3 separate regions of the Homo sapiens genome follow, and regions 1 and 2 are each reported to be linked to region 3. The links are microRNA targets in miRTarBase. Many come from high-throughput screens and were not tested one by one. Region 3 holds a microRNA gene; each other region holds the end of a gene's coding sequence. Distances are from middle to middle.

Region 1 (4,000 bases), 23 Mb from region 3:
CTCCATCTCAAAAAAAAAAAAAAAAAGCTCTCTTGGGGTTTCTTGAAGGATGGGAGGGGGACAGAACAGACAGACACAGAGTGGAACTGACTGCTGTTTGAACTTGAGTCACTCAGTGCTTCTGCATGCCGGTTTCACTAGTTCAGGCACAGTATTCCAGAAACCTCGGGTTCAGAGGTGCTGAGAGGTTAGTGAGAAGCTCTGTAAGATGCTCAGAATTCTTAGGGAGAAGGTGGACTTTTTATTTAAAATAAGAAACAAATTATTTCTGCCATGCAAGCAATAAAGAAATTCAACATCAGATTAGCAGGGTAAAGATGACTTTTTTTTTTTTTTTTTGAGACAGAGTCTTGCTCTGTCACCAAGGCTGGAGTGCAGAGGTGTGATCTCAGCTCACTGCAACCTCTGTCCCCTGGGTTCAAGTGATTTCCTGCCTCAGCCTCCCGAGTAGCTGGGATTACAGGCGCCCACCATCATGCCTGGTTAATTTTTGTATTTCCAGTAGAGACAGGTTTCACTGTTGGCCCTTCTGGTCTCAAACTTCTGACCTCAAGTTATCCACCTGCCTCGACCTCCCGAAGTGCTGGGATTACAGGCATGAGCCACCGCACCGGGCCCAAAGATTAGTTTTTAACAAAGTGTGCTGGGATAACTGACTATCCTTTTTCTCTGAGATGGGAGGGTCTTGAGCAGAGAATCGACAAGATTGGATATACTTCTTAACAAGAGCACTCTGGCTGCTATGGTGAGAAGAGTCTGAAGATGGAGTGGAGGGTGAATGCAGGGAGGCAGTTAGGGGGTGATCCCAAAACTCCAGGAAAGAAACGGTAGGGGCCTGGCCCGAGTGACAGCACCACAGGTGATGGGGAGGTGGCCGGATGCTGCAAATGATTTGACGGCAGACCCAAAAGATATGGAGCGTGAGAGGAGGAAGGTCAGGGGGGGACATAGCGTTTTTGTTCTAAGCAATAGGGAAGGATGGAGTTGTAAAAAATGGAGATGGGAAACATCAGAGGAGGAGCAGGCCGTGGAGACGTAGAAACATCAAGCAGGGGATTGGATACAAGTCTGGAGTTGGAGGGAGCGATCTGAGCTGGAGATAGGAATTTGGGAGCCATCTGCGTGGAGATGGAGAGGCATGGACAGCCCAGAGCCACCCAAATCCAGAGGTCACGAACAGCAGGAGGAATCAACAGTGACAGAGCCTTGCCCCACTGCTCCTGGCAGCCCACACTGTCCCTGGGAAAAACCTATATATACTGAGGTCTTCTGTCTGTAAGGCCACAGTCATGTGGGAACAGAGTGCTTCAGGGGAAAGGGCACAGCTTTACTCCCTGGAGTTTGATAGCAATTTGGTATTTGAGCCCATTTGTTGTGTTTTTTGAAAAATTAACCTCTTGAAGGGACCAAATCAAAATCTAAACGACTAACTGGAGGGCTGCTGGGGAGAGGGGAAGTCCGACAGGCTTGAAGGCAGATCTGTAATTGAAAATGAGTTCAAAAGCTACATGTAATATAATCTGTTCAAAATGTAAAATAGGGGCTAAGTTTTGGACATGAATACCTACATATTCCTGACACATGGCCCCTGAGGAATTTCTTTTTTTTAGGAAGTAGGAAAAAATGGCAGCAGACTTAGAGTTGACTTTAAATATAAAGCTATGTGTGAAAAGAATGATGCCAAAAGTTAAATAATATGCTTTTCTCGCTCTATGAATGGTTTCTCGGGCCCTGGCTATATATAAATGCTGCGGTAGTAATGGAAATCTCATCTTCCTAGGACACAGCACCCTCCTACAGAGAATGTACCTCCTATTTATGTGTACCACACAAGCAAAAGAGCAGCTGCTAAAACATGGATTTGTGTATTACCGTCAAATATGATCAAAGACACAATTCTGATAGCTTTGATTATCTGTAGTACTAGTGAAAGAGCACTTGTACAGAACATATTCATGTACAAAGCCAATCATTTATTTAGCACTAAAATCAAATTATAAAAACAACAATTCCATCTTAAAACAGGCATTTTAAAAGCATTTCTGTGGTTCTAAGTTTGCATCAAGACAGCCTAAGTTTGCATCTGCACAATCTGGATACCCAAATCCCTCTATAATTTCCAAAGACAAAGACAATTTTTGCTAGTTGTGAGGTGTCAGGGGGAAGCAGTGATGCCCTGCAAACAGTCTAATGGGCCCAGGGAACCCTGTTTCTTTCTCAACCTGAGGTTGCATCCTTGATCTCCAGGAAAAGAGATTAGTGCTTGCTTAACCAGGTTCCTAGTAAATGGTCAGGGATCTTCTATGCAATAATGTTGCAAAAGTTACTGAAGAGGAAAAAAAAAGCACAACGGAGGCTTCTTGCCCATTTACACTTGCAATGTTAGATTTTGAAAACAGGGCCCTTCATAGTCAGCACCCAAGTCCTGACTTCCAGATGTAATGCAGGCTGGTTAACAGCCCTTAATAACTACATTGCAATTCCAAACGACTCCCTGACAGCTTTTCTAGACAGGGAGTAGAATTAAGTGTGCGGGTGCTCTTAGGCTCTCCGAGGCAATAACAAGCTCAGTTTAACCATTTCCCTTCTGGGTTGACTGCTGAGTTATGCAGATTCCAGTTCATTAAGCCCTGAGTATAGAGTATGAGGCCAACATCTTTTCTTTAGTAAAAGCCATGCCATTCGTCTGCCTTTCCCTTTTCCTCCTTTATCTGGGCGACTGTTTTTGGAAACTGGGGTAACTCCCTGCAGGCAGGCAGCAGGAGATATCTCCAAGTCAGGCTGGCATGGTGGGGTGCTATCCTCTGTACAACCATGAGGAAGATGAGGCAAATAAGATCAAGAGAGCATTTTGTGAACAGGCGATGACCCAGTTTGTACCTGTGCTTTGTGGCTAGTGAAACTGTACATCTGAAGCTGTCCAAACTCCCAGACACAAGGAATCTCAGTTGCAACTCTACTGTGATATATTATATGGCAGTGATTCTTATTTAGGAAGGACTTTGATTTCTCCTTGGCCATGGGTTCTTGGGTTAAAGGGCCTGGGCTGTGGGTCAGCAGGGTGGGACGGTCCTGGAAGACTCACAGAGCCAGGGACACCCACATCCTCCAGCATGTCCAGTTCCCTATAATTCTCTATGGCCACAGGAAATAAGCCATGAAATGGGACAGGATTCTGGTTCTGTACAAGGTCAACCAGCTCCTATCAAGGACACACGGAGGGATACGTCTGTGAGGAGCCATTCTGTGTTCTTCCGGCTTTCAGTCTTCCATATCAGTGAATTTTCTCTTCTTGTAATTCTGAACGAGGTTGGAAGCTGTGATCTGAGAAGCCTGCCCCTTCTCCCAACACTGAAAGTCATTCAGTCCTTTCTGCCCTGTTTGAAATAAGCCCCTCTCCATCTCGTCTAGCCTGGCTACCAGGGCTGAAGTGTCTTCGTTGTAAGCATTCTGTGAGGAGTCCATGATGCGGCGAAAACGTCCGATAAAAGTCTGGGAAACAAGGGAGTAAGACAAGTCAGGGTTGACCTCACACCCCACAAAGTCATATCCATTTTTATCTCAGAACATTTAAATGGCATGAAAAGAAAGAATGATGTGTAGGACTCAGAAGGAGGTCTGAATTCCCTCTAGCACCCAAGTAAGTTATTGCACATTGCCATGCCTCAATTTCCTCATCTGTGAAGTGGATTGTTATGAAAATCCAGTAAGTTGTTAAGAAAACCAATGAATACATGTAATGCACCTAGCAAATGGCTAGCACACAGCAAGCTCCTTGAGAAGCATCACCTATTATTGTCATTAGTAGCAAATGCTTCTGTCCCAAGAGGAAGAAATGATGGTTTCTTCTAACAGTAACAGAATAAAAAAGTAATTATGAAAAATTAAAATAAGGTTATACCATAAAGGTTGGGAACAGATGTATAACATTGTTTTGTCCTGGAAAAGTAATAACAATATGAGTTATTGTTTATTACACGGCATTACATAGTTTTACCAC
Region 2 (4,358 bases), not on the chromosome of region 3:
ACTGTGAAATAGAACTTTCTACCATAATGGAAATGTTCTATATCTATGCTGTCCCCTAGAGTAGTCGTGAGCCATGTTGCTGTTGAGTGCTTGAAATGTGGCTAGTGTGACTGAGGAACTGGATTTTTTTATTTTATTTCAATAAATCTTAAATAACCAGTGTGTGGCTCTTGTCTACTCTGTTGGACAGTGCAGATCCACAATGACGATGATCATATGCACCCTAATATTTAGCTTCTAATAAAATAAGATCATAAAATACTTCCTAAATACAAATGATTAATGTATATTTATTTGTGTATGTATATGTATTACATGGTGGGATAGGATTTAAATATTCAATAATCACATATAAATATAGCTTTAAAAATGAAATATTGGCAAGGATTAAAATTTAAAAGCCGTTTTTTAATACATTTATAGGTGACATGAACAGGTTGATAATGTGCATAAATGAATAACTGTTTTGAAAAGAAAAATTATGCAAATTTGTTATTCAGTTTTGAATATTGGTAAAGTGGTAGTTCAGATTATCTTTTGGAAGTAGTTCTGTTTGAACTTTAAAGTACTTTATAGCATAATTTTGCAAAGGTTTTTTTCTTAATCGCTTAGAATCAAAATATAATAAACATTCTTATCTGTTGCTTATGTATGCCAAATATAATTTAAAATGCTCATTTTTTTCTGTAAAAAATATATTAAAGTCAAGTATTTTTACTGTGGCTCTCATTATATAAATAATTAGTATAAGTATCTCAATTTTTCTGGTTTTGTTCCTTTCTAGCTGCATAGATGAATGGTTTGAAGTAAATAGATCTTGCCCTGAGCACCCTTCAGATTAAGCGTCAGCTTCCTGTTTTATAGGTAATTTTTTTTGTAATTACTTTTTAAAGCGTTAGCCCAAATTATACATTCTAAACTATAATTTTTATTTATTCATTTACTCATTGAGGTGCATGAGTGTGTATGTGTATGTTTCAGACACTTAGGCTACTGCATAGAAAACTTACATTAAAAATATTGTATAATTCTAATTGTTGGCTGGGTATGCTGGCTCGCGCCTGTAATCCCAGCACTTTGGGAGGCCTCAGGCAGGTGGATCACTTGAGGCCAAAAGTTCAAGACCAGCCTGGCCAACATGGTGAAACTCTGTCTCTACTAAAAATACAAAAATTAGCCAGGCTTGGTGGTGCACACCTGTAATCCGAGCTACTCGGGAGGCTGAGGTACAAGAATCACTTGAGGCTGGGCATGGTGGCTCACACCTGTAATCCCAGCACTTTGGGAAGCCGAGGCGGGCGGGTCACGAGGTCAGGAGATTGAGACCATCCCTGGCTAACACGGTGAAACCCCGTCTCTACTGAAAATACAAAAAAAAATTAGCCAGGCCTGGTGGCGGGTGCCTGTAGTCCCAGCTGCTTGGGAGGCTGAGGCAGGAGAATGGTGTGAACCCAGGAGGTGGAGTTGGCGGTGAGCTGAGATCGTGCCACTGCACTCTAGCCTGGGCGACAGAGCGAGTCTCCTTCTCAAAAAAAACAAAAAACAAAAGAGAATCACTTGAACCCAGGAAGTGGAGGTTGCAGTGAGCCGAGATCATGCCACTGCACTCCAGCCTGGGTGACAGAGCAAGACTGTCTCAAAAACAACCAAACCAAAAAATAATAATTCTAATCATTTAGTATTATCATGTGCCAGGTGTTGTTGTAAGCATTTTACATCTATTAGTAACTTGTCTAATTGTTACAATAACCGTTTTGAGCTCAGTACCATTACTGTTCCTATTACGCAGATGAAGAAATTAAGTATAGAGAGGTTAAGAAACTTGACTTTTCAAGTTCAGATAACTAGTTTGTTGGTGGGGATGAAATTTGAACCCAGGTATTCTGGTTCCAAAGACTGTTCTTAGCAATTTTGCTCTTTTTAGGTAGGAACATTTTCTTCAAACAGTCGCATCATAAATTTATTCATTCAATTTAATCATTCACTTTTATATCTTTAGCATGTAATACAGTGCCTGTCTATATAGTAGGCAAAAAATAAAGTTGCATTTTACGACTGAAAAAAAAACTAGTTTTGTTCTACTGATTTAAGTTTTTCATGGTTCTGCATTATCTGAAAATGTTTAGTGAATTGAATGCTGACCTCAATTGGGTATTTTCATAGGGCTTTTTTTTTTCACATTTCACAAGTGCATTAAATTGACATCATTTAGCTTTGAAAAAATAAAGGTTAACTTAATTGCTATCTTCAAATATATGAAAAGCTTTTATGAAAAGACTTGGAGAGATGATATAAAGCATTGGATTGTTATATCAAGGCAGAGCATTTTAGCTAATCCTAGAATTGTTTCAGGAGTGAGAGTCTCTTTGTTCAGGGACTCAAGACAGTAACAGCCGGCTTTTCTAGGAGGCTGAGACTGATGGCAAGGAACTAGACCAGATGACGTCCAGAGGTCTAGTCCTGTGTGGTACCATTTCCTTTTATTTCAATAACTTCTCTTAAATTTGAGAATAAAAGTGTTGAGGTAATAAACACCCTCAAGGAATTCTGTTGCTGTATTGGTGGAAGATGATTTAAGAGTAGCAGATTAGAATATTGACAGAGAAGATTTGAGATAATAGCAGCAATAGCACCTGAAATGAGAACTGCAGTTGAGTGTCATAAGACTACGCATGTGCATGTGAAATGTGGAAGCCTTGGTAGACTGCAGAGTACTAAAAGACTGCCAATTTTAACCTTTCCTGTGAACTTACTTAGATCATGCCTTGACACATTTAAAATATGAATTGAGGCTGAACACTAATTGCTTGAGATAAGGAGTTTGAGGCTGCAGTGAGCTATGAACACACCAGTGCACTCCTGCCTGGGTGACTTAGCAAGTCCCTGTCTAAATAAATAAATAAATAAAATGTGAATGGAAGTAAGAATGCTAGGTAAGAGAAGTATAGTGGTGGAGTGGTATTTTGAATATATGTGCACATATGTTTTTATTTCACCATAGAAAAGGTTTGGAATGCCTTCATTGTCACCTTATGTTTGAGACAAAACGAAACTGTGGCTAAAATTATAGAAGCATTTTAAGGGAAGTACTGAAACTGATGCTAACAAAATGAAATTTTTGTCTTAGTATTTTACATGCCAAAGTAATACATCTAAATCCTTCATCTATAGATAAAATTTGTCTTTTTAGTCTTTCTTAGTGCATTTTGGGCTGCTATAACAAAATACCTTAGATGAGTAATTTATACATGACAGAAATTTAGTGCTCACAGTTCTGGAAGCTGGGAAGTCTAAGATCAAGGTTCCAGCCAGTAGATCTGGTGTCTGATGAGGGCTCATTGCTCATTTATGGCACCTTCTGTGTGTCCTCACGTGGTGGGATAACAGACTCCCTCAAGCTTCTATAAGGATACTAACTGCATTCATGTGGTCAGAGCCCTCATCACCTAATCATGTCCCAAAGGCCCCACCTCTTAATACTATAGCACTGCAGATTAGGTTTTAACATAGCAATTTTGGGAGTACACAAACATTTAGACCATAGAGCTGATAAGCTTTTTTTTTTTTTTTTTTTTTTTTTGGTGAGGTGGAATTATATTGTATAAATTTTTTTTCTTTCATCAGCTAAATTTTTCCTTTAGTGTCACAGTGAGCTTATGGGATATGTGGAGCATACATCTCATCTCATAGCTGAAATGCATATGTCTGTTGGTCTTCAACAACATTTCCATTTTCTTATGTTACATATGAGTGTTATATTTGCTTATTTGTTTGTTTTCGAATATAGAACCTGAATTTGAAACTAGCCTACTACATGGGCAGGGTGAACTCTGTTAATCAGGTGTCTACAGAAATCTGAACCAATGGAGTCTGCTTCTGTGGGTCTTGAAGAGTCATTTTTAAGAGTTTATAGACATGGAATATCTTGACTTGTACATTTTTGCTTCTGTCCTGACTGTTCTTATTTATCAAGTGATAAATTCTTGTATACCTTTTAATAGTCCTAGATTAAAGGTATATGGGTTTGAGGAGGATTCAGTGTTGTTAAAACATTTTGTAAGGCACTGTGTAGCCATAAAGCTCAACGTTTCTGATATCCTTCAGCATAAGAATTTAATAATCAACCCAAAATAGAGAGACATGAATATTTGTGGTCTTGATTAGTTAGAAAATTGCTGTACTTATTTTGGGGTTTTTAGTTATTTGGGAGAAATATTTTAAATCTCCGTGTGTGTGCATTCTTTACTTGCGTGTAGTCCTTATTGTGAAAGGGGGATGACTTTGTTATGTATTTTTTGTGACTAAACTTTAATTGATCCTTCTGTTTCTTAATCTGTTCTTCTCCAGATCACTGATTT
Region 3 (4,358 bases):
AGCAAGAACCAAAAGCAGAAGCCAGGTCTTTGGATTATCAGCTCACCAGTCAGCCAGTGAGGCTGGAACTTGATTTTTCTAGGCATACAAGTATTTTTAGTAATAGAATAATCATTTTTAGTATTAATACAATTTACGCTCCCAAACATGTCCTTTGCTAGTTGCACAGGCATAAGCTGAAAGATCTTTGATTTTCTTTGTTAGTTAGCTATAGGAAGGTTAAGAATTTATTTACTAAGGTCGTAAGAACAGAAGAAAGTTTCTTTGAAAGAGAAACTGTTTTTTTATTTCAAAGAGCTTCATGTATACTTCCCTCTCTTATTCCATGTAATTAGTAAGGGAAAATAAACTATGTCTTAGAATGTTGAGGAAAGTATTTTGATAGCTTTTAATAATTCTTGAAATACTCTTTACTCTGTCTGTAGTTTTGAGAAATTACAGAAATTCATAGTATAAGGATGAGAAGGGGCCCATTTGCCCATATTTGATAACACAGACTTGGATTGAGTGTCTGTCATGCCTGCTGGCAGTTAAGTCTCAGTGGTATTGACTGCTAGGCATTTTCTATATTTTTTGCAAGTTAGCTGGTAAAACTTGGTAAAGTTTTGTGTTTTTCAGAAGGAACCCTATTATTATTTCCATTTTAAACATATTTCAATATTGTCTCATTGTAATAGTTCCATTTATGTGACATCTGAGGAATTAAATCATACTTCCAGATGGTTTGGTCTAATGTATACAGTTTAGGAAAGTTTATTCTTTTTTATTTTATTTTATTTTTTTAAATTTCTTTTAGAAACTGGGTTTTGCTCTGTTGCCCAGGCTGATCTTAAACTCCTGGCCTCAGATGTGGAGACCCAGCTGGGACTACAGGCATGAGCCACCACGCTCCGTAGAAAGTTTGTTCTTTTTCAGTTCTGTCATTGAAATTCTCTAAGTGATTGGATTTTTAAACCCCTTCCCCTTTTCATGAAATTAAACATCAAATAAATAAAACTACATTATATAATTATTTAGTCAGAAATGACTGTTGCCCTCTCTTTTTTTTTTTTTTTTTTTTTTTTTTTTGAGACGGAGTCTCGCTCTGTCGCCTAGGCTGGAGTGCAGTGGTGCGATCTCGGCTCACTGCAATCTCCGCCTCCTGGGTTCAAGCAATCATCCTGCCTCAGCCTCCCCAGTACCTGGGATTACAGGTGCTTATTACCACACTCGGCGAATTTTTTGTGTTTTTAGTAGAGACGGGGTTTCACCATGTTAGCCAGCATGGTCTCGATCTCCTAAACTTCGTGATCCGCCCGCCTCAGCCTCCCAAAGTGCTGGATTACAGGTGTGAGCCACCTCGCCTGCCCTCTTTTTTTTTTTTTATTTTGAGATTAAAACTAATTCTTTTAAAGTCACTACTCAGCTGAAATTTGGCCTGATTATAAATGTTGATAATAATTTCTTCCTGGCTCAACAAAGTTGTTGAGCTTCCTTCTGTGCACACATTGAAAGAAAACCAGAAATTGTACAGTCGTGATATGAATTAGAGAAGGAACAGGTGGAAAAGGATGGCAACACACAGAGTCCGGGGGACACACGGCCTTAAGATGAAGTGAACGAGTAGACACTGAATAGGATCCACGTAAATGAACGGCCATTTCAAATCATTCACATCCCAAACGGAGGTTCATCTGTCTTCTGGTTGGTGAATTATATTTATTAGGATCTTATTTTTAGCATTTCATTACAAGTAATAGGTTTGGGTACCTTATTTTTATTGTTTTTACTCATCAGTTATGAATAAGGCATACCTTAGAAACTTGGGTTAAATTTTTTCAAGTTATACCAGTCAACTTGGTTTAAATACAACTGTACTAACTTGCTTTATCATGTTTCCTGTTTAATTGGATGAGAATTACATGCACTTATTCAGTTGTTCTTTGTGTTTATAGGAAAAACTCTGTTCTCAGCTACCTCATTATGTAGTATTGTGCTTGATCCCCTGCCAATTGAGAAGAATTCAACACATTCTGTTCTTTAACAAAAGCTTGGAAGCAGGCAGTCAGAGGCCTTGAGGAATACAATTCTCTAAGGCCTGTTTTCCATTTTACTACTTAAAAAAAAAAAAAAAAGAAAAGAAAAAAAAGCACTTACAACCAGGAGGAATAATAATTCTCCTAGAGTTGCTGCAAACTGATTACTTGAAACTCAACTTGAACTTTAAAGAGTCTTTAAAAGGCTGTTTTCATAATGCAGAAAAGTAGTCTATTTAAACGCCACTGCTGTGTAAAACAGGGGGCTCGATTTCCATTCTTGTTAGCATCAGACAAGAAAATGTGTCTATCTGTCATCTGACCCAGTATTTGGGATTTGGGTGCTTGAGGATACTATTTTTTTCATTTCTTATAAGGTGCTATTGTTTCCCAGAAATCTTTAATTTTGATGAAAATCTACTCATTGCTAAGATCCTCCTCACTTAAAGTGTTTCCTCAGTGCAGAGTTGAGGTTGGCAGAACTATATAGAGTTGGATGATACTGAAAATCATGAATGATGTGATTTGTTCCATGTATCTGTGGAACATCCCTCACCTTCCTCCGGTATGCGCCTTCTGCACTCCACACGTGGTCGCCTCCATCCTCCCTAGTGTCTGTCAGCTTGCCTGGTCACCAAGTCAGGAGGAAGAAGATGAGGAGGCTCACCAGTTGTAGGCAAGACTCTTCCTCTCGGGAGATCTTGTAATAATGGCCCAGTTTCAGGGCACAGTTGTACACATTCTACTTAAATGGAGGAGTTCAGTGATGCCGTGGCCAAAAGAGTTATGCCCATTTCTAAAAGCCTGGCATATTTGGTATAACTTAAGCACCAGGTAAAATCTGGTGCTTAAGTTGTACCAAGTATAGCCAAGTTTAACTGTCGTTGTGTATTAATAAGATTTAATTTTTATGCTTGTGCTTTTCAGAGTAAAGGGCTTGCTTTCAATAGTAGAATGACAAAGCTTCTCCTCCAATGACAATCTGTTAGCACCCTGTTGACTTAGCTCAGGACATGAGACTGACTTAGCTCAGGACATGAGACATTTCCTGGAAGTGATTTCCATGAGAACAAAGGCTTATTCCTTTAACTTAAACCCCAAACTTTGTTATTTTAATTATTTTCAGGCAATCATCTTTATATACTTTCCTTACAAACCCAGTGGTTGAGAGCATAGGCCTTGGTGGCAGGTGCATCTGGGCTTGGGGGCTTCTGCCACACTTACTACTCTGTGACTTGGGAAGCTCTTAAGGCTCCCAAGGCTCCGTTTCTTATGTGGAAGAAGAATAGCAGGAGGACTCACCTCTGCGGGTTGTTGTGAGGATTAACTGGGTGATGACTGTAAGCAGCTGGGAGAGTGCCTTGTGTGCAGTGACCACTGTTGCTGCCACCATGATTATGTCACCTCTCAACATGGGGTGGTGGGAGGCCCTGTGGATGAGGCCAAGGCTGCCTGCACTGAGTGTCCCAGGCCTTATAGCTTTCCACATTCTCACGTCTGCTGCCACATGATATACAAGTAAATGTATTAGAAGTTGGTGTTCATAAAATACTTTTTTTTTTTTTTTTTTTTGAGATGGAGTCTCGCTCCGTCACCCAGGCTGGAGTGCAGTGGCGCCATCTCCCAGGCTCAAGGGATCCTCCTGCCTCGGCCTGCCAAGTAGCTGGGACTACAAGTGCACACCAGTATGCCCAGCTAATTTTTTGTATTTTTAGAACAGGTGTGGTTTCACCATATTGCCCAGGCTGGTCTCGAGCTCCTGAGCTCAGGCAATCCGCCTGCCTCAACCTCCCAAAGTGCTGGGATTACAGGTGTGAGCATCCAGCCAGAAAATGATTTGCTTTCTAGACCCATATCACCTCTCTCCATCTACATCTCTAGTATTTAAATTCAACACAATTCTAGATAGCTGAAACAGCCCAAAATATGTGTTTAGAATACTTAGAGTTTGTTATAAATAACCCTCTGTTTAGAATTTGCCCAGTGAAATTCTCTAATAATACTTAAAACTCTTTACTAAAGTTGAATTTTCCTTTTTTTTCATTGAAATAGCAAAGGTAGTAATCTGTATTGGTCAAAGAAACGAGATAATTCCTAGATCTCTGTTTTAGACCAGTAGACCTAACTGTGCTTTCTTAACTTGGATGTTACATGAAACTTAAAAACAAACAAATATGTGTTACAAGTACTTGTGTGTACGTGCATGTGTGTTTGTGCATGTGTCTGTGTGTGTGGAACTTTTGTACCTTTGCATAAAGAAGGTTATTTAACAAAGTGGTACAAACAGTGAACTACTTAATCCTTCTATGGTATCATACACTTCTTTTCCTGGTTAGGTTATGA

The links. Region 3 holds the annotated microRNA hsa-miR-4720-5p (CCUGGCAUAUUUGGUAUAACUU, at 2,819-2,840, shown strand). A microRNA usually pairs through its seed, bases 2 to 8, with sites in the 3' UTR of a target mRNA and lowers its output. Matches are read on the target gene's strand: a 7mer-m8 pairs with bases 2 to 8, a 7mer-A1 pairs with bases 2 to 7 and ends in A, and an 8mer does both.
Region 1: the mRNA of GINS3 is a reported target of hsa-miR-4720-5p. Seed matches in the 3' UTR shown: 7mer-m8 at 2,782-2,788.
Region 2: miRTarBase lists ZNRF2 as a target of hsa-miR-4720-5p. The part of its 3' UTR that is shown has no 7-base or 8-base seed match.

The regions. Positions count from the first base shown.
Region 1 is chr16:58,403,991-58,407,990 of GRCh38, reverse strand. It overlaps GINS3 (GINS complex subunit 3), which reads right to left. Exons shown (of 3, transcript NM_022770.4): 3 at 1,844-3,492. The coding sequence ends at 3,262. Among named protein-coding and RNA genes, the nearest start is that of GINS3, 14 kb to the right of the region's middle.
Region 2 is chr7:30,361,593-30,365,950 of GRCh38, forward strand. It overlaps ZNRF2 (zinc and ring finger 2), which reads left to right. Exons shown (of 5, transcript NM_147128.4): 4 at 785-864. The coding sequence ends at 842. Among named protein-coding and RNA genes, the nearest start is that of LINC01176, 27 kb to the right of the region's middle.
Region 3 is chr16:81,382,203-81,386,560 of GRCh38, forward strand. MIR4720 (microRNA 4720) reads left to right here and starts at 2,816; the gene lies at 2,816-2,891. GAN (gigaxonin) reads left to right here. Exons shown (of 11, transcript NM_022041.4): 11 at 1-4,358.